4 linked regions of the Homo sapiens genome follow. The protein of the gene in region 3 purifies or fractionates together with the protein of the main gene of each other region. This does not show direct contact. Each region holds a gene or a part of one and is shown on either strand. Other genes may lie near its edges. The genes, in order: ATP2B2, NDUFS4, GALNT6 and ATP2B3.

Region 1 (7,025 bases), on a different chromosome or scaffold from region 3:
GACGTTCCCAGGGCCAGGGAAGCTGATGTCTCCACTCAGCTCAGAATTTCCTTCCCCTGAGGTCATGGGGCAGACTCAGGCCTCTGAGAGGGCAGAGAAGTGCCTAGAAACAGCCCTGGGTCCCAGTGCCAGGTCTCGCTTAATTTTATTGCTACTCCCTGAGTGCAGGAGTGGCCCAGGCCACATACTCTTCACCACACTGACCCCATTTTGTAGATAAGGAAACTGAGGCTCTGGAAGCTCTAAATACTGTGGTGGTGAGGCTGAGTCTTGGTCCTGGAAGTTATTCATGGCCTAGCCCCCAGGCAGGGCACCCGCAGTCGTATACCACCTTCTACCTGGGGCTGCCTCCGCCTCCCAGCAGGAGTTGTTTCTGGAGCTGATTCATCTCTGAGCTCAGCAAGGAGCCCGACAAACAGCCTGGTCCACACCAAATACTTAGCTAATACTGGTTTTATTGATTTGCATTCTATGCCCTCTTCAGGATGCTCTGAGCTCAGAAATCTGAAATTGGCTGGGGGTGGGATGGGGAGAAGGGCTTCATTTTAATCTGAAGTGAGTCATGTAAGTTGATAAATTTAGAAGTGGCCTAAAGAGCTCTTAATCTGCTGCCTTCAGATAGTTGCTAGGAAGAGACTGGCACCCAGCAACCTTTGCATCCCAAATCCACATAACAGAGTGGACACTGTTGGTGCCCACCCTAGTCCTCCTTACCGGTCTGCAGCTTCCACACCCCAGCTGCTGGGAGCTAGAGCTCCCGGCTGCCCCTTCTTTGCAGGCTTGCCCTGGGAAGAACAGGAGCTCCTGCCCGGGCAATTGCACACAGCATCCCACTCAGAAGGCAGCCGTGGCCAATAACTATCTGATATGGGGTATGAAAGGCCAGCTTTTTTGCTTCAAGGCAGAGCCAAACCTGGGGCGCAGTTCATGCCCCACATCCCCCAAGGGATCAGCTGAGGCCACACGCTTGTTTATCTCTTTCTCTCCCTACCTTGTTTCCTTTCAGCCCCTTTCTCCTGAGCGCTGTCTCATGCTTGCTCCTAGTGAGTCCAACCCAAGATCCACACACATTGCACTCCACACGCAGACACTAGCTCCACCCCTCCAACCCCGCCCCTTCCCCCGTGACCTGGACATCAGCAATGTCCAGGCAGCTTCGAATTTTAGACATTTAAAGTCTCAGGGGGCCCATCTGGCTCCAAAAGGCTTGTTTCAAAGATGGGAAACTGATGCTCAGAAAGAGACTGTGACTTGTCCAAGGTCACTTGAAGTGCTTGTCATGGCTGGCTGCACCCAGGTCTTTGTCCTCCCCCCAACTCCAATCCACTTTGTGGCCCTAGCCTGTCTGGTGGCTGGACCAACGGGCCAGCCACGGCTTTTGCTGTCTCCAGGAGGGAATTTTGCTGTGTCAACTCTGCAGAAGCCACTTGGAGGCCAGGAGAGTGCTGGCTGGTGGGCTTGCAGGATGGTTGGCAGGCTCTGCTGACCTTGGGCAGCTGTGGGCAGGGTGGGCATCCCAGTTAGGCCCCTTCCACTGTTTGTGGTGGTCAGGCAGAAAATTGAGGGAAGACAGAAACGACTTCTAATGAGGGCCCTAATTACCCTGTGGATCCCTGAAGCACTGGTGATGTATCTGCTGGTGGCTTCTTCTAGAAACCCTCCTCTCCATGGCAAGAACTGCTTTCTCCATAAGAGAAAGAGTCCTGAACCAACATGGGCAAAGAGGCAGCATTGGGCTGGTGCCTGGACATTGGGCTGTGGTTCCAGTCTGCTGGGAGCTGGCTGTGTGATCCTGGGCAAACCAGCATGCCTCTTGGCCCTTGGTTTTCTCAGCTATAAAGCAAGTGCAGCCTCAACTGCTATTATTTTATTGAGCCTAGTGTTTATTTTAGTATCATTTATTGAACTAGAAGAGACTCATTAAAGTTCATCAAATAATAATTGCTTACACTTCTGCCAAGGGCTGTCCTAAGCACTTTAATTTTACTTAATCCTCACAACAATCCTATGAATTGGACACTTTTGTTATCCCCATTTTACAGATGGTGGGACTAAGGCACAGAGAAATTAAGAAACTTGTGCTGGGTCACACAGCATGGAAATGGTGGAGCAGGAATTAGAATCCCAGAGTCTATGCTTTAAATTCCTCCTTGTACTACGGTCTTTGCTGTTTGTTTTGCACGGCCATTTATTAAGCACCTACTGCATATGGGGACTCTGCTGGTCACGTAATACACACAAAAGTTTGCCGACTTCTCACAGCTGCTCCGGCAAGCAGGTGTTCTTTTGCTGATTGTTTCAGAGTGGACACAAAGGACCCAGTGAGGGACTCACCGCAACTGAGCTGGGGAGGCAGGTGGCAATCCTGGCTTCTTCCCACCAGCCTGGTGGCTCTGTTCTGAGCCCCTTATAAAACTGATCTTATTTATCATATTTTCTTGACTCTAACCTGTATCACTACTTTACGTATATTTAAGAAATAAAAGGCATGGCTGGTTCCACTGTGGTGTAACACCAGTTGTCAGGCACAACCTGGCTTCAGAAATGTCAAAATGTATATCTTGGAATCCGCACAGTTCAGTCTCCGACACAACGGCCTGATGAGGCAGGCAGTGTTGTCATCTCCATTTGACAGTGGAGGGAACGGAGGCTTGGAGATTAAGGACATGCAGCTGGTCAGCGGCCAGGCATTGGATGTGACCCCAAGCAGCCTGGGCCCAGATGTTGTCCTCAACTACTGCGCTACATCAACGCTAAGTCAGGCCCACGTAGGATGGCGTGCCCTGCCCATGGGCACAGATCAAAAAACTTCAGAAGGATCAGTGAGCTGGAGGCCAGCACCCTCTGCTCCGGATGAGCCTGGGGGCCTCACTCAGCGTGGATGCCTCAGGCATGCAGGAGGCACCCCAAATGGCTGCCACAGCATTCCCCGCCCACTGCCTCCACAGCTCCCTTGGGCCTGCAAGGCAGGTGTTTGACAGAGCTGGGCTAGAATGAGTTCATCCAGATGACGCCCCCATGGCTCCCACAAAATGGTCCCGGGGCAGCCAGACATGGCCCGGTAGAGTAGCCCAGCCGGCACAGGAAAGGCACCACTTTATAGGAAACTGCCTTCAGAGGCAGCACAGAAGCTTGCAGAGACCTGCTTTCTTCCTTCAAAGCTACATGGTGCTTGGACCCCAAACGGTGTCATCCATTCACTGCTTCTCCCATAGGCTCCACCAATCCCATATGCTCCACTATGGCACGACTGCTCCCAATTTTCCCAAATCAAATCCACCCTCCTTGGACTAGGATGTGCCCCTTCTGGGGACATCTTTAAGATGCCCACAAGCAGGGCAGAAGCTCAACATATTTCGAATGCCTGGCATGATGAGGGTTCCATTTGAGACATTACCTACCCATCATCTCGTGGCACAATCTTGTGAGGCAGGTTTTTCCCACTCCACTTTGCATATCAGGATGTCAAGCTCAGAGAAGCAAAGCTACCTGCCCAAGGTCACACAGTAGTAAACACTGGCATTAGGATTTATACTCAAATCTTTCTGATGCCACAAAGGAGGCCACTTTCCATCAATTTCTGGCGAGGCCCTGAGCCAAGTGCTTCCTTTGCATTACTTCACCAAATCCTCATACAACAAATAATAGCATCATCATAATACTACCACTATCCCATCTTACAGGCAAGAAAACATCCGCTGAGCCTCTACCTGGACCACACCCGGGCCAAGCCCTGTACTTGGATCCTGTTTGCCTCACGTGACAACCGGGAAGATGGGTGCTCAGCTAACCCTTGGTTTACGGAGGAGCAAACTGAGGCGAAGTCACTGGTTCAACCACACACAACCGAACGCACATGACTGAATAAGCAATTCCCCTCCCACGCATTACATGGGAAAACAAAAAGCATTTGTAAAGTGCTTGCGGACACATTTTAGCGATTAGTACTATTATGATGAACATTTCGGTACTTGGCAATTACCCCATAAAGTCAGTGCTGCTGCCCCTATTCTCCGGAAGAGCACAATGACGTTCACAGAGTCAGTGGCAGAGACAAGGAACTGTGGCTCTCAATCCTCTGCCACATGTTGGTCTCCTGGGACCACGGCTGGGCCCCTTCACACCTTGAAGCTCCCCTGCCTGTCTCCAGCCTCTCTCTGGTGCCCAGGAGCCCCTGCAGACCTGGGGTCTTCATAGGGCTGGCTGGAATTCCTGCCCCATGGATTCCTAGCTGTGGGCCCTAAGGGGTCTCTGGGCATCCCCCAGCCAGCTACAAAAAGGTGGAAAGGTGAAGGAGCACCAGGGACCTGGGTTCAAATCCCAGCTCTGCCCCTCACTTGCTGTGTGACTTGGGCACATTCTTTTTTTTTTTTTTTTTTTTTTGAGATAGAGTCTCACTCTGTCACCCAGGCTAGAGTGCAATGGTTCCATCTTGGCTCACTGCAACCTCCACCTCCCAGGATCAAATGATTCTCCTGTCTCAGCCTCCTGAGTAGCTGGATTACAGGCATGCACCACCAGGCCCGGCTAACTTTTTTTGTATTTTTAGTAGAAACGGGGTTTTGCCATGTTGGCCAGGCTGGTCTCGAACTCCTGACCTCAGGTGATCCACCTGTCTTGGCGTCCCAAAGTGCTTGGATTACAGGTATGAGCCACTGCGCCTGGCCTGACTTGGGCACATTCTTAATGTCTCTGGGCCCTGGTTTCTGTAATCCGGAAAATGGGTGATGGTGAAGAAGAGATAAGACTGTGTGCAGGTCTTATGAGCAATAAACACCTCATAAATCTTAGTGACTGCAGTGGGTTGAACGGTGTCCTATCCAAAGTTCATGCCCACCTGGAACCTCAGAATGTGACCTTGTTTGGAAATAGGATCTTTGCAGATGGAATTAGCTAAGGATTTTGAGATGAAATCATCTTGGGTCTAGGTTGGGCCCTAAATCCAATGACCAATGTCTTTAGAAGCAGAGGAGAGGACACCGAGAGACACACAGGAAGGAGTGAGGTGAAGATGAAAGCAGAGATGGGTGTGACGCAGCCACAAGGTGAGGAAGAGCAAGGGTTGCTGGCCACTGCCCGTAGCTAGGGAGACAAGGGACAGGCTCTTCCTCAGCCTCTCCAGGAAAAGCCAACCCTGCTGGCTCCTGACTCTAGACTTCTGGCTTCCAGAAGTGGGAGACAATACACGTCTGTTGTTTGAAGCCACCTAGCCTGTGGTCATTTGTTATGGCAGCCACAGAAAACAAACACAACGGGCTGTCCCTGCAGTTGCTCTCCTTGCTACTTCCTGAGACTTGCAGTGTTTCTGACCCTTCACCCCAAGGGGCAGTGGGCAGGAGAAGCTGCCCTCACCAAGGACACTGGGGGGCAGGATCACTGACCCCTCTCACAAGGGGAGAGCTTGGGACCAGAGGGCTTACACAGCTTTTCCAAGGTCACTCGCCAGTGATGAGCCGGCCTGGGACCCAGCTCTCCTGACCCTCAGACCAACACACTCTCCCCCATACCCAGGGACCTCTGTTTCTTTAGGAACCTGAGCTGTGGCCCCTGCTCGGGCCTGGTCACTTGCCCTCCTGGTCCTGCCAGCCGTGGTCTCTGGCCACATATCTGGAACTCTCTGACCCTGCAGAGATTTCCTAGACTGTGAATGACACTTCTAAGGCTTTTACCGTCACTCCCGCTTCCCCCTGCCTCCCGCCGCCTCCATCCAGACTGTCAAGTGAAGACCGGGGTGAAGCCGAAGCCACACTGCCCAGCAGGAGGTCCCAGGAGTTTTCCATAGCATAACCCATTTTTTAAACGGTTTTTTTTTTTTTTTGAGACAGGGTCTCGCTCTGTCATCCAGGCTGGAGTGCAGTGGCACAATCACGGCTCACTGCAGCCTTGACCTCCCGGACTCAAGCGATCCTCCCACCTCAGCCTCCTGCATAGCTGGGACGACAGGAGTATGCCACCACACCCTGCTAATTTTTAAATTTTTTGTAGAGATGGGGTCTTGGAGAGTGCCCTTGGAGCATGGCTCCCAGCTGTCTGCTGAGAAGATGGCCTTGTTTTGGATTTGAGGGTTCATCGGTCCTCAGGAGGGCCTGATTTAGCTGTGCAGGGTGAAGCCAGGGGCTAGGGGTTGGTAGGGGACTGGTGGGGAGAGGAAATGAGTTTCAGTCTCATTCAGTCACCCACTAGGCTGGAGACCTCAGTTTCCCCACGTGTGACAGGTACAGGCAGAACAGCATGGTGTCTAGGCCACCCCCAGCTCTGAGCGCCTATGTGCTCCACCAAGCCCACTCTTAAGCACCTCAGCTCCCCAGGGTGCGGAGTGAAATGGGTGAAAACCCAGGGGTACCTGTGGAAATGTAGCCCCTGGGACCTCCTGATTCATCAAGGTAGGGCCCAGAAATCTGCCCCCATCAGGTGATCTTTAGGTTAATTAATGCATTAATGGGTTTCCTGACCCATACCTGTGGCTGGGCAGGGGGAAGGCAGAGGAGGGCAGTGGGACAGCAGGCGGATGGGCCAGTGTTTCAGGCTCTGCACATAGCATAAGCCACAGGCAGCTTTTCTGACCTCCGATCTGCAAACTAGAGATTTCTTTCCTTTTTTCCCTTTCTGATCTCAGAGTTGGCCAGTTGCAGCAGCAAGGTGCTCACCTGCTCCGGCTCCTGATCCTGATGCCAATCACACCTTCGTGCACAGCCCTCTACAGTGTCCAGGGCTCTCTGGCAGCTGTGGCATAAAACAGGGCAGAGATAGGCCTGCCTGGCCACAGATGAGAAGATTGAGGGCAGAGAGAGGAAGTGACTTGGCCAAGATCACACAGCTGGTCAGGAGCAGGGCTGGGCCCAGGGCTCTCATACTTTCCACCCACAGTCAAACACCTGGGGAAAACCAGGGGCCAACACAGGCCTCTGCTGCTTCTTGTCTGGGGCCTGAGAGCACTTGCAAGAAGCCCAGGTCTCTACAGAACACGGTGTGACCTTGGACAAGTCCCTGTGCCTGGCTGGGCCACAGTTTCCTTTTTATAAACG
Region 2 (7,025 bases), on a different chromosome or scaffold from region 3:
ATCCCCTTACAGGTACTGAGGGACAACTATTACTTCAAGAAAGGTATAACAAAGCTGGGGAAAATCTAGGTAGGGCAAGAAAATTCAACAGTATGCAACCGATTTTATGACATATAATTAAAAATACCAAACCAATCCAGTCTGTCTACCTCTCTTGTATGCTTCATAGCACTCTGTTTAGGGCAATGTATTACTGGCTGACTCACTCATTCTTCAAACTAGAAAGAAGAGAACTTAGAAGAGTTATTAGTGAACTCTAAAATTTGAAAACTTTATAGAAAAGGCAACCTCCTGAGAGTTAAAAAAAGATGCTCATAGGAAAAATTAAAATAATAGTGCTCTCATTAATGAACACACAGGATGTGAAAATCATCCTCACTTCATACACACATAACTGCCTCATTTCTTTTGTTTTGTTTTTCAGACTGAGTTTCACTCTTGTTGCCCAGGCTGGAGAGTAATGGTGCGATCTCGGCTCCCTGCAACCTCCACCTCCCAGGTTCAAGCGATTCTCCTGCCTCAGCCTCCTGAGTAGCTGAGATTACAGGCACCCGCCACCACGCCCAGCTAATTTTTTGTATTTTTAGTAGAGACGGGGTATCACCATGTTGGTCAAGCTGGTCACGAACTCCTGACCTCGTGATCCACCCGCCTCAGCCTCCCAAAGTGCTGGGATTACAGGCATGAGCCACCATGCCCTGCCCCTCATTTCTTTTATACTTGACTAAGCAAGTGGTGTTTGATTACCATTTGAAGAATAGGTAGATGGTGACCGGATGAAGTCCTCAGGATTAGTTAAAATGCATCCAGGTAGAGTGAACAGGAACTCCAAATGCCTTGAAGCAGGAAAAAGAGTAGCAAGTTCCAGGCTTGGTGTGGCTAGACCACAGAATGTAAAACACAGTGGTACAAGATAAACCTAGAGAGGAAGGCAGGAGCTAAATCAGGCAAGACGTCAAAGACCATGTTAGGATTTTAGTGTTTACTCTAAGGGCAACAGGAAGCACCAAAGGACGAAAAGAGGGTGACAATACCAGCATTTCAAAGACTATTTTGGCATCCTAAGGAAAATTAATCAGATTAGGATTAAAGAGTCTAGGGAGATCAGGTCAAAGACTACTGTAGAAATCTAGGTGAAAGATGATGTAACCTAGATCAGGATGATGACAATGTCAGTAGGTAAACTGAAGAGATAATTTTAAAATAAAACCAGTCAGCACAAGATGTGAATTTTCCAAACTGTCTCTATTTACTTATACATTTATTTGTCTGTATCTTTAATGGTGCAAATAGAAATTTAAGTGTGACCTATTACTTAGATTGGGCTTACAGGCTCAAAGTTGAGTGATAAAATACTGTACAATAATAAAGGGGGTAGTTAAGAAACACTGATAATGGTAAACCAGATATAAAATGAAAAGCACACATATACAATTACTCATTTCTATCAGAAGTTTTGGAAACATTACAAAATGTATGCTATTGAAGCATAAATATAAAGTTGCATGTAAAGTAACAGACCACACTCTAAAATATTTTATAAGTGATGGCTGCCAAAATTCTGTTTGTTACTGATTCACAAAACATTATTACTCATTTGTTGCTGGTCTTGCTAGTTGTTTGCTAGTTGCTTGCTAGTTATTTCTTCATACATATGAAGAAATAAAATGTGTGTGTATGTGTTTGTATGCATATACATATATACATATAGTGATAATAAATGTTGCATGCTTCCAAGAAAACCTAATATATTTAGTTTTAGATAGTACTAGCAAGTATCTCACAACTTAAATAGGAGTGTAACTGAGAAAATAAAAAGCAAAACATTCATTACAAAAAGTAATGAATGTTCTGCTAGTTATAAACACCACAAAAATGAAAACCTTTCATAATTTTAATTTATTAATATTTGCATATGGTTTTGTATTTGTTTATAATGCTTAATATAAATTATCTTTTGATGACAAATATTTCTTCTTAAAATTTAGGTATAATCTAGAAATTCAAATTCAAATCACTTTCCTGAAAACCTGGAACACCATACTGAATATCTATAGTACAAAAATAACCCTGAAGGCAGAACCATAGCAGTGTGTAGTAGAAAATCCTTACCAATTTTTCATCAACTGTTATGAGTTGTGTGTCTTGAGTCTGGTCCTGTGCCAATCTCCATGTGGAAGTCCTCAACGACCTGCAGTGCAAGACTTTAAGTTAAAAAAGGATCCAGGCAATGAGAGGAGAGACAGACAAATCTTACATAAACAAGCTACTTTAACAATATCTGTCTTATTAAAAAAAAAAAAAAAGGAAAGGAAAGAAAGAGAAGAGGGCACAAAAGTCCTTTTTCTCTGCAATTAGTTCTGTCTGCTGAGTTTTTGGCAGACTCACTTGACAGTTCACAACAGGCTGCGCTTTACGTCAGTCTTCAGGCTCTCTGTCACAGAAAGGCCACCAGTGACAAGTACTGTACTGCTGTCTATGAGTGTACAGTGGCTGATTTGTCACGACCAGCCAGAAACATGCAAAGCTATACCAATTGTTCTGGAACACTGATTCTTAAACGGATGGCATCAGAAACGAAAAGAAAAAAATCCCAATCATAATAAAAAGTTTATTCACTCTAATTTCACACCAAAAGTATTTTACATAGGAATGATTTGTATAACTAATGTTATTAGTTTAGTCCTGTAGCCCATTCACAAAATGGGAGAAATAAAATTAGTTAAAATGAAAATATTAAGTTAGACGTAAAATGGGCAGAGAATCTAGCCCCTTTATATTAGCATTTTCCTACTCTCACTCCAATTACTTAACGTTAACGGACGTTTCATGTACACTTTGTTGTTTATACTACTGAATGTCATACATATCCCTGACTGTGCTGTGACATTTTAGCATCTTAAGAGTTTTCCAAACTATTAGGCTATCTGACATAGATTTCTATTGCAAAAGTAAGTATACACAACTGTGGCTCAAATTTCCACCCCAAATATATGGCATTTGGTCCTTTCTTTTTTTTAATACAATATATTCACTACCATAGTTTTAATGCAACATAATAACCAATAATTGACAAAAATAACTGATACAAATAGTTGAACTTTTTGTGCTAAAAGTTCAATTTTGATAATGTGTACACAGCCATATAGAAAACCTTCTTAATTATAATTTAAAGATAACATAATACAAGAGGTTTTACTGCTTTATGAATATACTTTAAAATATCTGTCAATTATTTACCAAATTTAAGGTATTATGTAATTCTTTATCACTGTAAATGCCCCACTCAGAAATATACCTACACAAAATGTACTAACATGGAAATAACTCTAGATGATTTACACAAAGTTAAAATACATGTCCTGGTTGTTATATTAAAGAAGTATAATTAAGCAACTCTTAATACCTATTTTATTTTGGAAATCATTAAGGTCAGTAACATGGCAATTAAAAAATTTAAATACTTTTAAACAAATCCACATATTACAAGAAAAACATTGGGTAATGATAAGTGAACTCATGAGAATCTGAAATATCAGAAAATGTTATCACATTTTCTAAATGCAGTAAGTAGCTCCCCCTCATCCTTGTACGATACATTTTAAGACGCCCAGTGGATGCCTAAAATTGTTAATAGAACTGAACCCTACATACACTGTTTTTTCTAATACATACACACCTATGATAAAGTTTACTTTACAAATTAGGCAGTAATAAATTAACAATAACTAATAATAAAACAGATCAATTAAGTAAAATAAAGGTTACTTGAACACAAGCACTGCAATACTGAGACGGTCAATCTTATCACCAAGATGGCTACTAAGTTCTGACTAACGCAGGTATCCTATACAACCTGGATACACTAGACAAAGGGATGATTCACATCCTGGGTGAGACAGAGCTGGACGGCATGAGATTTCATCACACTACTCAGAATGGAGCAAATATTAAATTCATAAATTGTTTGTTTTGGGAATTTTCCACTGCATATTTTTGGACCACAGCTGACCGTGGGTAACTAAAACCGTGAAAAGCTACACTATATTTTCTCAAATGAAGAGACCTGTTAGATGAAAACAGTGCAAATTATTAGGTAGATTAAAACTCTGTACCCATTTTGTGCAATTTTTTACTACAAAGGGGATTTAACTTAAAACGATTATGTCCTAATTGTTTAAGAAAATCTTAGTATATATTAGTTGTAATCCAAAGTAAAGTTCTTAATTTATAAAACCATATATAATTTACTTTAAGGATAGGTTTATTTTAATAATTTTAGGTTAACCTCCAACTAATTGTAATAATAAAGTTATATAACATCTTTTGTAAACATGTGTAGCCGGGCGCGGTGGCTCATGCCTATAATCCCAGCACTTTGGGAGGCTGAGGCGGGCGGATCACAAGGTCAGGAGATGGATACCATCCTGGCTAACACGGTGAAACCCCGTCTCTACTAAAAATACAAAAAATTAGCCGGGCGTAGCAGCGGGCCCCTGTAGTCGCAGCTACTCGGAGGCTGAGGCAGGAGAATGGCGTGAACCTGGGAGGCGGAGCTTGCAGTGAGCTGAGATCGCGCCACTGCACTCCAGCCTGGGCGACAGAGCAAGACTCCGTCTCAAAAAAAAAAAAAAAAAAATTTATTATAAACAAACGCACTGATAAAAATTTATATCAAGCTGTATGTAAAAGATAATACAATAAAAAGGACAAAAATGTTAAGTAAAACAATCCTACCATAAAGTTACAGTAAAAATTTTTTGTAAAAAAATTTAAGATAGGTTAGATTGCAAAGAGTGATTTTAATTTTTATGTAAAACAATAATTATTTCAGAAAAATTTGCCTAAATTAAAACGTGTGCTTGTGTAAGTTATATCATGTGATAAGAAACTACCCTCTAAGCAGAAAACAATTATTAAAGGACTCAAATATCAGATGTGGAGAAAAGTTTTTCTCCAATTCTGGACAGTTAAGGTAGCAACGAAGGTCCACAGTCAATTATGAACACAGCATTTAATAAATTATACCTACCGGGCTGGGCGCAGTGGCTCACGCCTGTAATCCCAGCACTTCAGGAAGCTGAGGTGGGTGGATCACCTGAGGTCAGGAGTTCGAGACCAGTCTGGCCAACATGACAAAACCCCACCTCTACTAAAAATACAAAAATTAGCTGGGCTTGGTGGGGCATGCCTGTAGTCCCAGCTACTCAGGAGGTTGAGGCAGGAGAATCTCTTGAACCTGGAGGCAGAGGTTGCAATGAGCCGAGATCGCACCACTGCACTCCAGCCTGGGCAACAAAGTGAGACACTGTCTCAAAAAATGAATAAACAAAAAATAAAAATAGGCCGGGCGGGCCGGCTCACACCTGTAATCCCAGCACTTTGGGAGGCCGAGGATGGCGGATCACCTAAGTTCAGGAGTTCCAGACCAACCTGACCAACGTGGAGAAACCCAGTCTCCACTAAAAATACAAAATTAGCTGGGCGTGGTGGTGCATGCCTGTAACCCCAGCTACTCGGGAGGCTGAGATAGGAGAATCACTTGAACCCGGGAGGTGGAGGCTGCAGTGAGCTGAGATCGTGCCATTGCACTCCAGCCTGGGCAACAAAGAATGAAACTCCGTCTCAAAAAATAATAATAAAATAAATAAATAAATAAAAATTATACCTACAAAGTATAATCTATAGTAAATTTTAGACTACACATGAATTATACAGTAAATATCTGTTTGTTGATTAGCCTGTAAGGAATGTCACATCAGTGAAATGGTAGATGGAAGGAAAATATTAAGAGTACAAAAACCTTGTTAAGAAAAAAAGATATAAAGCCTAGAAAGCATAAAGGAAAAAATGACAGAAGCTATTACATAAAACCAAAAACATCAAAACTAAATATACTGTAAGTGAAGTGTAAGACAGACAAGAAGAAAATAATACAAAATAGAACAGTAAGGAATCAACATCTAAAAGAGGTAAAAGAACTTGTACAAGTAAGTAGGGGGTCATTTCTAAATTTTAAAAGAAGAACTCAAACAGCAACAAAACAACCCAATTAGAAATGGGGAAAACACCTAAATAAACATTTATCCAAAAAAGATATACAAATGGCTAATGAGCACATGAAATGATGCTCAACAGAACTAATTAGAGCAATGCAAATCAAAACACAATGAGGTAGCATTTTACACCCTTTTACAACATTTTAGTATATAAAAACAGAAAATAAGTATTAACAGAAACGTATAGAAATTGGTACCCTTATGGGAATGTAAAATGGTACTACCACTATGGAAAATGGTATGGCAGTTTCTCAAAAAGTAAACAGAATTATCCTATGATCCAACAATTCCATTACTGAGTATATACCTAAAAGAACTAAAAGTGAAGACTCAAATAAATATTTGTACACCAATGTTTATAGCAGCATTTTTCAAATAGCCAAAAGCAAAAACAGCCAAAATATTAATAATCATATTTTACTGGGCAATGTACCCAGTAAAACAGTGTTCTCAGTAGTAAGTGTTCATGTAGAAACAATGACTAATGTGTAATCATTAGAAAATAAATGGTAATTTTACTCACTCTGCTGTTTAATATTCATTTTTGACAAACTTAAAAACATTCTTTGCCTCATGGGTTTGCCTTTATTTTTGTCCATCTATTTGTTTTGTTAATTGGCCTGCTCACATTTCCAGGTTTGTAAAGTATCATTCTTAATTCTCAGCCCAAAGGATAAACTCTGAGGGTTGTGATTGTGATTATTAATTACCATTACTGGTCAAGGTAATTATAAGCGTACAAGCCATTTATTCTGTTTTTCTGTATAAGTTTCCTGAAAGAAAAAGAGATATCCTGAAAATGAAAATCAATAAACTTTATTTCTAATCCTGGTTTTTATCAATAAACCTTATTTCTAACTCTGGTTAAGTAAAACAGTTTGGTGAGATTTTTGTCTTTTTTATTGTGTTGTCTTTTACATACAGCTTGATAACAATATGAGATAAATTTTTATCAGTATATTTATT
Region 3 (7,025 bases):
TGGCCTTGCTTTATAAGTGCTGCCAAGTATCTGTCTTCCCTGGGAAGATGTGAGCTTCCTGAAGAAATGAACTCAACAGGGCTCACACTCAGCCCTTCCTTCCACAGCCCTAGTCCTCTTTTCAGCATCACCCCTAACCTAGAGGAAGGAGGGAGGCTGGGGGAGGACAAGGACAGGAAGCAGCTCTACTGGAGTGGCCCCAGCGCTTACACTGGGAAGTGTGGAGTCAGTTCCTGCCCTCACTATTGGGAGTTTGAGCACAGGAGGTCAATCTGGGAGAGCCCCAGACACCACATGCCTCCTACGAGGAGGGCTAAGCTTGTGGAGACTCTCAGCCTAAAGGTGTCTCAGTCCCACAGCCTTTCCTAGTTCAGGCCCCATCATCTCCTACTCTCAAGTGAGTGTAAGAACTTCCTCTCCAGACTGTGAGTCCTCTGCCTCTCTTCCTGCCGATTATCCTCCTCCAAAGCTGCCATCCTTCTGAAATGAAGTCACAGTACAGATGAAACACTTTCAACGACTCCTTCTTACTTTCTAAATAAATGCTTTTAGCATGACATGAATGTCAATTCAACATTTTTTTTTTTGAGACAGGGTCATGCTCTGGCTCAGCCTCCCGAGTAGCTGGGACTACAGGCACATGCCGTCATGCCAGGCTAATTTTTGTAATTTTTATAGAAAAAAGGTCTTGACATGTTGCCCAGGCTGTCTTGAACTCCTGGGCTCAAGTGATCCACCCGCCTCGGCCTCCCTAAGTGCTGGGATTACAGGGGTGAGCCACTGTCCCTGGCCAATTTAACATCTTTTAAGTCTCATTTCCTAAACAAACCTAAGCTTCAGCCACACCAGATCTCTTTAACAAACACATTCATGTCTTTAGGACTGTGCTTATGCCATTCTCTTGTGGGAATGCCCTTCATCCACTCTTCTCTCTTAGACACTCATCCTTTAAGGCCCAGCTCCAATCTGGCTTCCACTGCAGACCAGCCCTAGCCACGCCAGGCAGAAATGGCACCTCCTGGCTACATACTCCATGGTGCATTGTTCTCGTACCATGAATAAAATGGAATGCATGCTTGTGACACTCTTACTTGATGCCAGCCACTCTGTGGCACATGAATCTCATTTATGACCTATCTCATATCCCTCACCCACCATGTAAGGGACTCAACTGCTCTTTTTTTTTTTTTTTGAGATGGAGTCTCACTCTGTAGCCCAGGCTGGAGTGCAGTAACATGATCTCGGCTCACTGCAACCTCCGCCTCCTGGGTTCAAGCGATTCTCCTGCCTCAGCCTCCCGAGTAGTTGGGACTACAGGCATGCTCTGCCACGCCTGGCTAATTTTTGTATTTTTAGTAGATACGGGGTTTCACCATATTGGCCGGGCTGTCTCGAACTCCTGACCTTAAGCAATCTGCCTGCCTCGGCCTCCCAGAGTGCTAGGATTACAGGCGTGAGCCACCACGCCCAGTCCTTTTTTTTGTTTTGTTTTTTTGAGAAGGAGTCTCACTCTGTCTCTCAGGCAGAAAAGCAGTGGTGCCATCTTGGCTCACTGCAGCCTACGCCTCCCGGGTTCAGGTGATTCTTGTGCCTCAGCCTCCCGAGCAGCTGGGACTACAAGCGCGCACCACCACACCTGGCTAATTATTTTTTGTATTTTGGGTAGAGATGGGGTTTCACCATGTTGGCCAGGCTGGTCTCAAACTCCTGACCTCAAGTGATCTGTCCGCTTCAGCCTCCCAAAGTGCTGAAATTACAGGCTTGAGCCACTGTGCCCGGTCTGCCCCCATTTTTTGAAGAGGAAACAGGTTCAGGGAGGCCAAATGCTTGTCCAAGGTCACAGAGCTAGGAAGGGTCAGAGCTGGGATTTGAATTCCTAGGTGTTGGACTCTGCAGTCCATGCCCTTTCACACCTGTTACAGGTGCATCACTGCCACAGCACTGTGGCTAGTGTTGTAAGAGGCTTCTGGCCGGGCACGGTGGCTCATGCCTGTAATCCCAGCACTTTGGGAGGCTGGAGCAGGCAGATTACCTGAGTTCGGGAGTTCGAGACCAACCTGACCAACATGGAGAAACCCCATCTCTATTAAAAATACAAAATTAGCTGGGTGTGGTGGCACATGCCTGTAATCCCAGCTACTAGGGAGGCTGAGGCAGGAGAATCGCTTGAACCTGGGAGGCGGAGGTTGTGGTGAGCTGAGATCACACCATTGTACTCCAGCCTGGGCAACAAGAGCGAAACTCCATCTCAAAAAAAAAAAAAAAAAAAAGGCTTCTGACCTATGGGGGTTTTTAGTATTTTCAGGGCAGGGTCTGTCTCCTTTGTCATGGCATCCCCTCTGCCTGGGTCAGAGCCAGGCACACAGTACTCAGTAGATGTTTGTGGAATTGAAGGCTGGAAGTTTGGTGAGCAACCCCACTTACCTATCAACAGCTATGGCAAAAAGGGCTGGTTGGGGAGTCTTCAAGAGCAGAAGAGTGGCCCAGCGGGTAGGAAACAGAGGTGAAGGCCTGTCCCTACCCTCTGCCCTGTCTCTCCCAGCATTTCTGAGTTAGGGTTGGCCTTGGCAGCGTTCAGGGAGTCTTGAAGCCAGAGCTGAAAAGCTCTTGGAGCTCTTTGGCTGAGGTGTGAAGGAAGCATGGTCTACCTGCCCCTACCTGACTTCTTCCTGCTCCTGGCCTTTAAGATGAGCTGTGATGTCAGGCAACAGGCTCATGAGGTGGTGCCTGCTCCCTTGAAAGGAACTGCCCTCCTCCTTTGAGTGCCCAGGGGAGACCCCGGCCCCCTCCTCTGGGCCCCTCCAGCCTCACCCTCTGTGCTGGCATCATCCACCAGTATGATCTCCTTGAGCAAGATGGCAGGGGTGGTGTGTAGGACGCTGTACACTGTTCGCAGCAGTGTGGACCAGGCTTCGTTGTGGAACACAATGATCACGCTGGTGGTGGCCAGTGGGGGGCAGCGCCGGAACTTCTGGTCCACACACCTGGAAGTATGAAAGTACGGACAAAGTTCTCCTGGTCCCTGGGAGTACCAGGTGTGGGGAGGGCCCCATCCAGAGACTCCCCCAGACCATCCTCCACTCCTCTGAACCACAGCCTACATTCTCTATAGCAGGTGGGAACAGCTGTTCCCTGTTCCTGTCTTCCCCGGTATCTGCCACCCACCCTGAGCCTTTGCACAGGTTCTAGCCAAACCACTCCAAAATCCATCCCCACAGAGCTGGCTCAGTGCCCCAGCTGTGATGCTGAGGCTCCTCCACCCCCTTCCTTCATCTGCTATCTGCTCTCAGGCTAGGAGTTCCCAGGGCTGGCTCTCTTCCTCCGTAATATGTGAACTGCATAAAATGTAATCCAATCCAGAGGTCCCAGAGGGGTAGGTAATAAAGGCCAAATTTGACATCTGAGAAAAGTGACTATGATTTCCATACTCAATGAGAAGAAAAGGCTCTTCCCTTTACAGCGTACAGTTCCTCTCTAATCCATTTTCTCATTAACTCCCTGTGATTTGACACCACTATCACAGTCAATTTCCTGCAACCTTTCTTCCAACTTCATCCACTCCAGCTACTCTGTGGCACTTGGCCATGCTGCTACCTTCTTGACACTCTATCTCAGGGTTGGGGTGGGAATGTGTGAATCCTGGATCTCAAGGAATCATGTGACCTCACACCCTTTCCTTGACCTCCTCTGCTGGTCAGAGGATTTCTTGGGGACCCTCCAGAGAGATTCCCTGTCTTCCTCCTCTGGCTGCTGTCACACCCAGTGCTCTTCTCTCTGTCTGTTTTTTTTGAGACAGAGTCTTGCTCTGTCACTCAGGCTGGAGTGCAGTGGTATGATCTTAGCTCCCTGCAACCTCCACCTCCCAGGTTCAAGCGATTCTTGTCCTTCAGCCTTCTGAGTAGCTGGGATTACAGGCACCCACTACCATGCCGGGCTAATTTTTTTGTATTTTTAGTAGAGACAGGCTTTCACCATGTTGGCCAGGCTGGTCTTGAACTCCTGGCCTCAAGAGATCCACCCACCTCAGCCTTCCATAGTGCTGGGATTATAGGCATGAGCCACTGTGCCTGGCCCCAGTGCCCTTCTCTGCTGAGGAATTCCTGATAGCTTCAAGTGGCCCCTTGTTCTAGGGCTATCATACTTGGCTCAAGTCTCAAGAACCTCAGGTTCACAGCCCTAAAGACTCACGAAATCTGGGGATGAGGGCTGCCATTTGAGAAAAGGCCAAATAGGGTATAACACTTGACCTGGAAAAGACAAAGGCTAAGTGGGGAAGACACACTGTCTTTAACTTGAGGATCATGGGAATGCAGCCATGGGGGCGTTAGAGGGAGGGGGCTGCCACTCAAAGATCTAAGTGAGATCTCATTGTGCAAGATTGAGGCTATAAACAACTTCAGATAAAGGTTGGAATCAATTCCGGCCTTGTGGGCCTTCACTGGAGGAAACCAGGTGTGAGGATATTCCTAACCACCAGGGTTGCTGTTAAGAAATGCCCACCCCCCCCCCAAACAGCTCAGCATTAGAGTCCCACAGTCTCTGGAGCAGGCCTCAGTAGAGGAGAAAGCTACTGAAACCACAGCTTGGTATCAGGTCTCCCCAGTCACCCCGTGCCAGGTCCTGGTGCCAGGCTGAGTTCCTTCTTCCACATCATCTCACTTTCATAATTGCATTTCACTCTCACAGGTCTCCCTGGGCCTCTGGCCTGACCATAATACCCTTGAATCACAACCCCTGGGATCAGCACAGTTGTTCTGGGAAAGAAGTGAGGCATAGAGGAGATCCTTGCCCATATTATAAAATTCCCTTCAACTCTTTCTCTGGCCCTTGATCTATGGCCCTGGCCATACTAGCCATGCCTTTAGCAAAGCCCTGGTCTCCCCACAAGGACTCTGGGTGCTACTTACTCAGGTGGTCGGGTGTCTGGCCCCAGGGACCTCTGCAGGGAGATCCGGTCGCTGGCAAAGGCATTGAAACAGTGCTTCTTATAGCCTTCTTCCTTTTCCTGGGTCTCCAGGGGGGTCCACTTGCTCTTCTGAAATGCTTTTCCATCTGCCCCAGGGGCATTGGGGTCCTGTGGTGGCCGTTCCCAGAAGGGCTTCAGTTCAGCTGGGGTATAGAACCCAGGGAGGCAGGACTGGTTTATGGAGAACAGAGTCTGCTGGGCTTCTGGAGCCCTGATTTGGAGCTTGGGCATTGAATCTCTAAGGTTGTTCATGGCCTCCAGCATGAGGTCCAGGACGTGATCCTTCCGGCTCACCAGGGACTTCAGCCACGGCTTCTCTGTGGCCTCCTCTCTGCTGCTCACATCCCTATGCAGGAGGAAGAGGAAGAGCACAAAGGCGCAGCCCACCATGGCCAGGCGCAGGGGCATGTGGCGTCTGCGGAGGAGCCTCATCCTCCAGAACCAAGGGGCACCCCAGCTGCGTCAGCTCTGAGTCCTGAGCCCAACCCTGGAGATAGCTTGATACGTTGTGGTGGCCACAAGCTGGGGCCTCAGCCTGAGAAAGGAGGGGACAAGAGAGAGAAGTGAGCCAACACAGGGTAAGGAGGGAGTCGGGTGCTTGGGGTTCGAGGCCAGGCTCTGTTGCTGAGTGGTGGCATCACCTTATTGGCCACAACTTTCCCATATCTACATTTCCTTCATCCATAAAATGAGGAGACCGGAGGCAGTGTTTCTTTCCTGCCCTAAGATCCTAATATGCATGGATCTAGAGTCACTGGAACACTGAAACACTACATGAGATTTAATCATTAAACTCATGAGATTTAATCATTATGGCTTTGGGAAACAACTTGGTATTATCAAGAAAAATTTGAAATGAACACAGCCTGAGCCAGCAATTCCACTCCTCATTTTATATCCCAGACAAACTCTGGTAGATGCAAACCAAGAGGTATGTACAAGAACATTTAAGCCAACACTGACTTAAATGGCAACAAACTGGTAAAACCTTTAAGTCCACTAGCAGAATGAATAAATAAAGTGCAAAATACCCATACCGTGCAGTGCTCTACAGTGATGACCAAGAATGAACCACTTCTCCATGCAACAATGTGGATGTGTTGTTGGGTGAAAAAAGCAAGTGACAAAAGGATACATACAGTATGATTCCACTTATAGAAAATGTAAAAACATGCTAAAATTAAACAATATCTTGTTCTTGAATACAAATATGTGATAAAGCTATAAAGAAAGCTAAAGAAGACTAGCCTGGCCAACATGGTGAAACCCTGTCTCTACTAAAAATACAAAAATTAGCTGGGCGTGGTAGCGCATGCCTGTAATCCCAGCTACTTGGGAGGCTGAGGCAGGAGAGTCACTTGAACCCGGGAGGCAGAGGTTGCAGTAGGCTAGGATCATGCCACTGCACTCCAGCCTGGGCAACAGAGCAAGACTCCGTCTCCCCACGAAAAAAAGAAAGCTAAAGAAATGACATAACCAGTTTCTGAAGATGAAGAAAACGGTACAGGATTAGAGATGGTTAATGGGGGACTTCAAAGTGTTTTTTTCTCAAAGTGGATGGCGGCTGCTGGTGGACTGTAATTCTTTAGACCCTATACGTATTTTATAAATATTTCTTGGCCAAGCATGGTGTAATCCCAGCACTTTGGGAGGCTGAGGTGGGAGGATCGCTTGGGCCCAGGAGTTCAAGACCAGTCTGCTCAACGTATTGAGAGCCCATCTCAATAAAAAATTTTAAAAATTAGCGAGGCGTAGTGGTGCACACCTGTAGTCCTAGCTGCCTGGGAGGCTGAAGCAGGAGGACTGCTGGAGCCCAGGAGGTTAAGGCTGCAGTGAGCTATAATCGCACCATTGCTCTTCAGCATGGGCGAGAGAGAGATTCTGTCTTTAAAAATAAATAAATAAAAGTTATCTGTAATCTACTCCTATTTAATAAAAAAGAATTTAACAGAAACCTAAGATTTCATGACAAGACATTCCCGGCAGGGCTGGGCATGGGCGTTCACCAGGCTCCACCCCCAGGCATGTGGATCCATGCCCTAGAGGATGAATGCTTGCA
Region 4 (7,025 bases), on a different chromosome or scaffold from region 3:
ACAGGCGGCCCTCACAATGCTGGGTGTCCCTGGATCCCACGGGGAGGTTGGAAGCCCCTTTGTGATTGGGGCCAGAAGTCTACACTGAGGGTTGGGGGACAGTCATTTGTTTCCTGCCAGAGAAGGCAAGAGCTGCAGAAGGAGAGAGCGAGGGAGCAGGAAGCATAATGACACTAATTATCCAATTACAGCGGGTGTGCGAGCTGCATAGCAGCGTGAGCCTGGCCAGCCACTACCCTGCCCCTACGTGCTCCCCACGCCCCTCCTGCCAGCCCGGGCCTGCCCAGCAGCCCCGAAGGCAGGGACGGCATGGGGACCTAGAAACGCTGTGGCTGTGGCCAGCGTGAAAGACTCTAGCCTACAAAGGGACGGAGACCTCGTGTTTGGGGTCCAATGGGAAGCCGGGTCCCTGTCCTCCCAGCCCTTCATAGCCAGAGAGCACGTGGATGGGAGGAGAGGTGCCCCAAGTCGGCCCGGCTCTGCTGTGGTACCTCGGTGCCCGTCCCAGCCCGCTTCCAATCTCAGAGCCAGCTCTGAGGACCGGAAGCCGTCGGGGCCTAAATAGGTAATTAAGGAAATTACAGGCAGCTGGAGGCCATGGGGCTGTGGGCCCTGGGCTAAGTCCTTCCAGCTTGGACAGGCAGTGACTAAATAAGGAGCTACCAGGACACATACACGTGTCCTCCTAGGGAACGAGTCCCATGGGGCCCCATTAGGAATCCTGGCAGGGGCAGTAGAGAGGGCATCCTGGTTTCTGGAAGCAGGCCAAAGTCCTTGGGAGTACAGGCTGGGGGGATGCATTGGTGTCAAGGTCAGAGGCCAATAAAAGGATCTGGGAGGCAGACCTCCAAATGGGGGCTCCAACTGAAGATGGGAGTCAAGCCTGCCCTTCTGTGATCTAGACCCAAGGAACGAGCACACCGAAGTATCCGTGCCACTCTCCCCAGCTGAGGGGGCAGGATGCCTGCTGCCAAATGTGGTGATGGAGGAAGAGCCAGTGGCGAGGATGCCCAGAGAGAGGGTACCTCAGAAGCTGCAGCCGAGGCTGCAGGACGCGAAGGTCATCAAGGGCTTGGCTGCTGTCTGAATCGCGTGAACTGAGCATTGCTGGTTCATTTTTGAATTTTGCCTAAGACACTATTTCTGAGCGAGGAACCCGGCATACGAGCCCAAAGCTTTTCCAGCAAAGCCCAGAGGAAGCACCACCAAGTTCCTGCCGTGCTCCAGGAGTGCCTGAAGGGAGTGCAGAGGCAGAGGCCCCCTCTCAGGCCGGGACCCAACACCAACACAGGGCTCCGAGTCTCTCCCTCAGTGCGCCCCACAGCCCATCAGCTCCCCCTACCCTCCCACCACCAGCTGCTCCTCCAGTTCCTGACCCTCTTATCATCATCTGTCATCAGCACCATTCCTCCCGCCCCCTCTGTGCTCATGGACAGATGCCTGCTCTCCCCACTGGGAAGGCACCGGGAGAGCACAGCTGGGCTGGGGACAGGACCTGAAGGGGTGGATTTCTGCTCTGTGTGCTCACCCCCTCCCCTCCTCCCTTAGGGGAGACCCCAACCCTGCCCGTCTCCATCTCAGATACCCCCTCCCACGATTGTGCTATAGCCCAGCTTCCTCCTTCGGGGAAGGGTGGATGGGGCGCAGAGGGCCAGGCGGTGGCCTGGGAGCCCTGACCCACCCCATCCCACCTACAGACACAGCCACGAGTGCCTCCCTAGGGGCTACCAGGGCAGGCGTCTGGGGCAGTGGCCCCCAGGTCAGCGCATTCTTACCCTCTGGCCCCATGGATGGGTTACAAGGGGGGACTCTTGCTCCACTCCCCAGGACAGAGGTTTCCAAGCCTAGCTGCTGGTCACAGTGTTGTGGGCAGATGAACCACAGGCCAGGAGGGAGAGATGAGACTAGGTGGGAGACGTGCCCTACCCGTCCACAGCCCTCCCTCTTCTCCTGCACCAGACGTGGGACCATCTGCTGGCAGCCGCCCTCTGACTACAGGAAGGTACCCAGAGACCCCAGGAGCCAGAGGAGCCAGGACCAGCTGCTCCTGAGCCCATCTCTCCTGGGCCTGTGGCTCCAAGCCAAGATGTGGCAGTGTCTGGTCCTGGATGCTTCCAGGAGAAATGGAGCTGAGGCCCATGGTGGGGGGCGGAATGGACCCTTGTGCCTGGTGAGCCCTTGCTCTGCCCGAGAATTGGGGCTGGACACACTCTCCTGCTCCTGCTGCTCTTTGAGGGAGCCAAGCGGTTACTGCCGGGCTGGTCCAACCTGGAGAAAGGGCCCCTTCCCATTTGGTCACGCCCTGTGCCACCATCACACCCCTGGCCCGCAATCTGTGGGAATGTAGGTTCAGTTTCGAACCGGCCACTCCATGCGCCTTAACCCGGTTCAGGGTTTGATTTGAAACGCCGGAGTGCAGGGAATTCTGAGTGTCAGGACAGTGATTTCCAAAAGAGCAGCAGAAAGGCCTAAGTCCTGTCATTTGAGGTCATCTTCTGCCGGCCCACAGTGGCTTCCCAATCTCCCGCGCTCTCTTGTACTGCCGGCTTTGTTTTCGTGTTTCTCAGTCAGGAGGCTGTGGCGTTCCCAGGGCCGTCTGGCTATCCTCAGCTGGGGGCCTTCACTCAGGATGGCGCTGTACTGCCCACACCCGCCTCCCATCTGCGGAGAGTCAAATCCACAGCATCTGCACAGAGCCAGCCGCCACCCCACCCCATGGGGACCGGACTCATCTGCGGCTTCGGAACTCTGAGGATGTCCAGAGAATGTATCACCCAGTGCTTTATCTTGGCGGGGAGGGAGGAAGGGGGTCTTGACAAAGTGGTTCTGAAGTCCACTGGACAGAGAAGCAAGCTTTAGGATTGCTGAGGTGGGGCCGGCAGGTCAGGTATTAAATGATACCAGGTACAAGAGGCAAAAGCACATCACCGGTACAGCAGCACACAGATGGGCCCGTGGGTCAGGACAGGCAGCCAGCACCAGGTCTGACTGCAGACCAGTGTCAGTGCGTGCAAATGAGCCAGGGAACAACCGATTTGCTACTAGAGATGGGGACAACTGGTTAGCAATCTGCAAAGGATGCACCTTAGATCCTCACCTCAAACTATCCCCTAAGACACATCTCATTTGGATTCAACAGGTTTGGCAAATTACAGCTTAAGTGCCAAATCTGGCAGCCCAGTGTTCTTGTGAATAAAGTTTTATTGGGACACAGCCTCACCCCCTCATTTCGCATTGTCTGTGGCTACTTGCAGGCTACCATGCAGAGTTGAGTAGTCGGGACAGAGACTATGTGGCCTGCAAACTGGAAATCTATTTACCATCTGGCCTTTTGCAGAAAAAGCTTGCTAATCCCTAAATTAAAGAGTTAAGTATCTTAAAAATGCAACTACACCACCCCAATACACACACACACACACACACAGACACACACACACGAAGACACATGGAAAACTCAGAAATGAACAGCTCTCAAATTTCCGAAAGGGATTTTCTAAGCCTAGAAACAATGGAAGAAATCACAAATAATTGTGAGCAACAAAGTGTTTACCTTTTGCATGAAAAAAAAAAATGGCAAAGAACAAAGGTCTTAAAAATTATTTGCAACAAATCTGTTAAATTGTCACTGTTTTTTCATGCATACAGTTTATTCAAGCCCACAGAAGAAACACTAAGACTTCAATAAACGCCTTTCATTCCAGCACTTTGGGAGGCCGAGGTGGGTGGATCACCTGAGGTGAGGTGTTTGAGACCAGCCTGGCCAACATGGTAAAACCCCGGGTCTATTAAAAATACAAAAATTAGCCGGGTGTGGTGGCGGGCCCCTGTAATCCCAGCTACTCGGGAGGCTGAGGCAGGAGAATGGCTCGAACCCTGGAGGTGGAGGTTGCAGTGAGCTGAGATCGCGCCACTGCACTCCAGCCTGGGTGACAGAGCGAGACTGTCTCAGGGAAAAAAAAAAAAAAAAAAAAAAATGAAGGGAGGAACAGATAATTCACAAGGAAAAGACAACTTATAAACATGAGGAAAAACGTGCCCCCTCATCAGCAATTAAAGACATATAAAGTAAAGTACATATTTTTGACCTAGATACTTATGACAATTTGTTTGATTAAAATATCTAATGCTGGCAAGGTTGCAGTGAGCGACACCATGCAGTGCGATGAAAAAGCCCTTTTGGAGAACAATTTGGCAGAAGATACCTCTGCCTGGGCCCTCTCCTCAGGACAGAGGCTCCTCAGCAGAGCTCACGCATAAGAGCAAAATAAATCTGACTGCCTGGGTTTCCAAAAATAGCCAAATAATTAAGCGAATTACAATCTCTTGGGAGAATATTATTCAGCCATTAAAAATTGTAATTACTGAAGGCCGCCTGATACATCCCGGGTGCTTGGTAAATAACTGTTGAATGATCAAATTTCTTCTTTGCATGGTTCAAGATCATTCTTTCTTTTTGCAATAAGCACTTACTGCTTTTATAATCTTAAAAAATTAAACTATAACCATTTTGAAAAAAACCATTCATTTAGGAAGGGATTATATTAATAAAGAAAATGCTTATGTGAAGTAAAAAACAGATTACACAATTGAGCCCATGGTATAATGACAGCAATGTGAAATGAATCAAATGGAGATGTTGGATTTACATTTGCATGATAGGATGGCTTTACTACATTTTCGACTTCTCTGTGTTTTATACGTTTCCTATAGAGAGCATATTAAGAGTATTGTTTTTAAATAGGAAGAAATCAATTAAAAAAAAAAAAACCCACGTCTCCTCCCTGCTGTTTCCTGAGCACAGGCAGTGCGCTGGGCATATGGTGGGGCCTAATAAGGACCAGGCGGTGGCCGGATCTGGTTTTTGCCCCATGCTGGGTGTGCTAGGACCACTGGAGTCAGCACGAGGCGAGGTCTGGGCATCCCCCACAGCACGGTGAGCTGCTGGGACAGAGGCCCTTTCCCTCCTCCCTGGTCTGTGTTTGTCTAGGTATCTGCGCAGCCCCTGGAGAGTACATGCTTGGCCACTGCCTTCCAAGGAGGCATGGGGCAGTGGGCTTGGTGGGGGGTGTCTAGGTCCGTGTGAGGACTCGGGTCTCCATTTGCTCCAAAGCAGCTCTGTGTGACAGTACATCCCGGAGTCTCTGCACTGTCCCATATGGTAGCCACCAGCCATGTGTGGCTACCTGAGGAGGCGGGGTCAGGGCAGGATGGGCGGGGACTCAGGTTGTGGACCCGAGCCCTGGGAGATACCGGCTGGCCTCGTGGCCTCAGTCCATCCTCCCGGCCCCAGCCAGGTTTGCACTCTTACTTTGGTGAACACTGAGCAAAGCACAAAGGCTCCAGGAGGGCAGGAAGGGCATTGCGTTTGCTTTTTGCTTTCCGTCGTCTCCCCTGAAGCAAACACAGAGCCTGGCACACAGTGAACCAGGGCAGTGTCCCTCATGCCCATCACATCAATAAGATGTGGCCCCCTGGCATAGCTGGCGCCATTCTGACAATAGAATGCACTCATCCATTCTGAGGAACGACCCGTTCAAGCCCAGCCTGGCACTTTCTGTCCCTACCTGTTAAGCTCTCAGACTGGAGCCTGTCCCACCACAGAACACCTCTTCAAATTTCTGTGAGCAGTCAGCCCTCTTTGGGGCTTCTCTTCAGGATGGTTCTCTGGGGGAGCCCAAGCTGCTGCATTAGTGGCCTTGTGCCACCAGGGAGTGGGTGTGGGAGGTGGCTTCAGGGTCCGTGTGAGGACTTGGGTTTCCATTTCCTGTAGAGCAGCTCTGTGTGACAGAGCATTCGGGAGTGATGGAAATGTTCTCTCTCTGCACTGTCTGTGACGGTAGCCACCAGCCTTGGGTGGCTCCTGAGCCCTTGAAATGTGGCTGGTGCACCTGAGGAAGTGCATTCTAATAAAATCGCTGCTTGGACAGTGCAGCTGGAGAAAGTGCCTTGAGCCTGTGGCCTCAGGGGAGAACTTCTCACTGGAATAAAATGGTTGCTCGCTTACTGAGAGACCCACCTACAGAACAAGAGAGGCTGGCTCAGGACCCCTTTAAATAAGGTGCTCTTCAAGGACACGGACATACTCGCTTTGTACAACTTTGATTTGGAACCAAGACTCCGGAAACCTCCTCGTGCTCTAAAAGAGTCCTGCCAGTCCCAAGATTCCCCAACCATTGGCATTTCCACCCTTGCCTTGTTGCTCTGATTCAAGTCCTGCCACCTACTCAGCCATGTGACCTTGGACTTGTCTCCTTCCCAACCTTGGGCAGTCCAGGATGCCCGAATTCCCCTGCATTTGAGAGCCTGCTTCCCTCTGCCCCAGTGACGCGTGGCTCTGATCCTTCTCCGCAGGCTCCCAGGCCCACTGCCAGCACCGCCCACCCAACAGAAGGAGCCCAGGCAGGGGAGGGCTTTCCAGCCAGGCGCTGCTTGGCCTGGCTTCTGCCAGCTTAGCCAGGGTGGGGAAGGGAGGAGCCCTGTGCATGCTCCAGGTCTCTGCCTGGCATACCCAGCCCGGGGCGTTGCTGGGGAGCTTGCTGCAAAGTCACAGCAAGAGGCTTAGAGGGAAGTGTTTGCCTTCAGTACCATGGCACAGGTCCCCATCTATCAGCTGCCATTTACGTGCACTGCCAGTGCTTCCGGGTGCCCTGAAGGGGCCATGAATGCAGAGCTAAACCGGTCCCTGAGTTGCTGGAGACTGATATAAATCCACCTGTTGTCCATTTCTCTCAGTGGGTAGACGGGGCAGAGGTGCAGGTGGCTCAGCTTCTGAGCTGCAAGGTCTTCCCAAGAATCCCCGGCTTCAGCCCACAAGGCTGGGAGTACCCGAGACAGTGAGTTCACACGAACCACACTCTACTCTGCTGACTTCCGCACACACTTCTGGAGATACAGGAACTAATGGCTACAAGCACAGACCAGACTCCGGAGCCTGATGGACTACATTCCAGCCCTGGATTTGCTACCTACTGGCTGTGTGACCTTGGGCAAGTTACCTAGCCTCTCTGGGCCTCAGCCGCAATGCA

The links.
Region 1: the proteins of GALNT6 (region 3) and ATP2B2 purify together in Homo sapiens (affinity purification with mass spectrometry; 2 studies listed by BioGRID and IntAct, with this or other methods). This does not show direct contact.
Region 2: the proteins of GALNT6 (region 3) and NDUFS4 purify together in Homo sapiens (affinity purification with mass spectrometry; 2 studies listed by BioGRID and IntAct, with this or other methods). This does not show direct contact.
Region 4: the proteins of GALNT6 (region 3) and ATP2B3 purify together in Homo sapiens (affinity purification with mass spectrometry; 2 studies listed by BioGRID and IntAct, with this or other methods). This does not show direct contact.

What each region holds. Positions count from the first base shown.
Region 1 is NC_000003.12:10,495,571-10,502,595, forward strand, and holds part of ATP2B2 (plasma membrane calcium-transporting ATPase 2), read right to left. Parts: intron 1-7,025. UniProt on the Homo sapiens protein: ATP-driven Ca(2+) ion pump involved in the maintenance of basal intracellular Ca(2+) levels in specialized cells of cerebellar circuit and vestibular and cochlear systems.
Region 2 is NC_000005.10:53,598,618-53,605,642, reverse strand, and holds part of NDUFS4 (NADH dehydrogenase [ubiquinone] iron-sulfur protein 4, mitochondrial isoform 1 precursor), read right to left. Parts: intron 2,192-7,025; coding exon 2,113-2,191; intron 920-2,112; exon of another isoform or gene 748-919; intron 1-747. UniProt on the Homo sapiens protein: Accessory subunit of the mitochondrial membrane respiratory chain NADH dehydrogenase (Complex I), that is believed not to be involved in catalysis. Complex I functions in the transfer of electrons from NADH to the respiratory chain.
Region 3 is NC_000012.12:51,374,384-51,381,408, forward strand, and holds part of GALNT6 (polypeptide N-acetylgalactosaminyltransferase 6), read right to left. Parts: intron 5,502-7,025; 5' UTR 5,399-5,501; coding exon 4,908-5,398; intron 2,985-4,907; coding exon 2,812-2,984; intron 1-2,811. UniProt on the Homo sapiens protein: Catalyzes the initial reaction in O-linked oligosaccharide biosynthesis, the transfer of an N-acetyl-D-galactosamine residue to a serine or threonine residue on the protein receptor. May participate in synthesis of oncofetal fibronectin.
Region 4 is NC_000023.11:153,520,638-153,527,662, reverse strand, and holds part of ATP2B3 (plasma membrane calcium-transporting ATPase 3), read right to left. Parts: intron 1-7,025. UniProt on the Homo sapiens protein: ATP-driven Ca(2+) ion pump involved in the maintenance of basal intracellular Ca(2+) levels at the presynaptic terminals. Uses ATP as an energy source to transport cytosolic Ca(2+) ions across the plasma membrane to the extracellular compartment.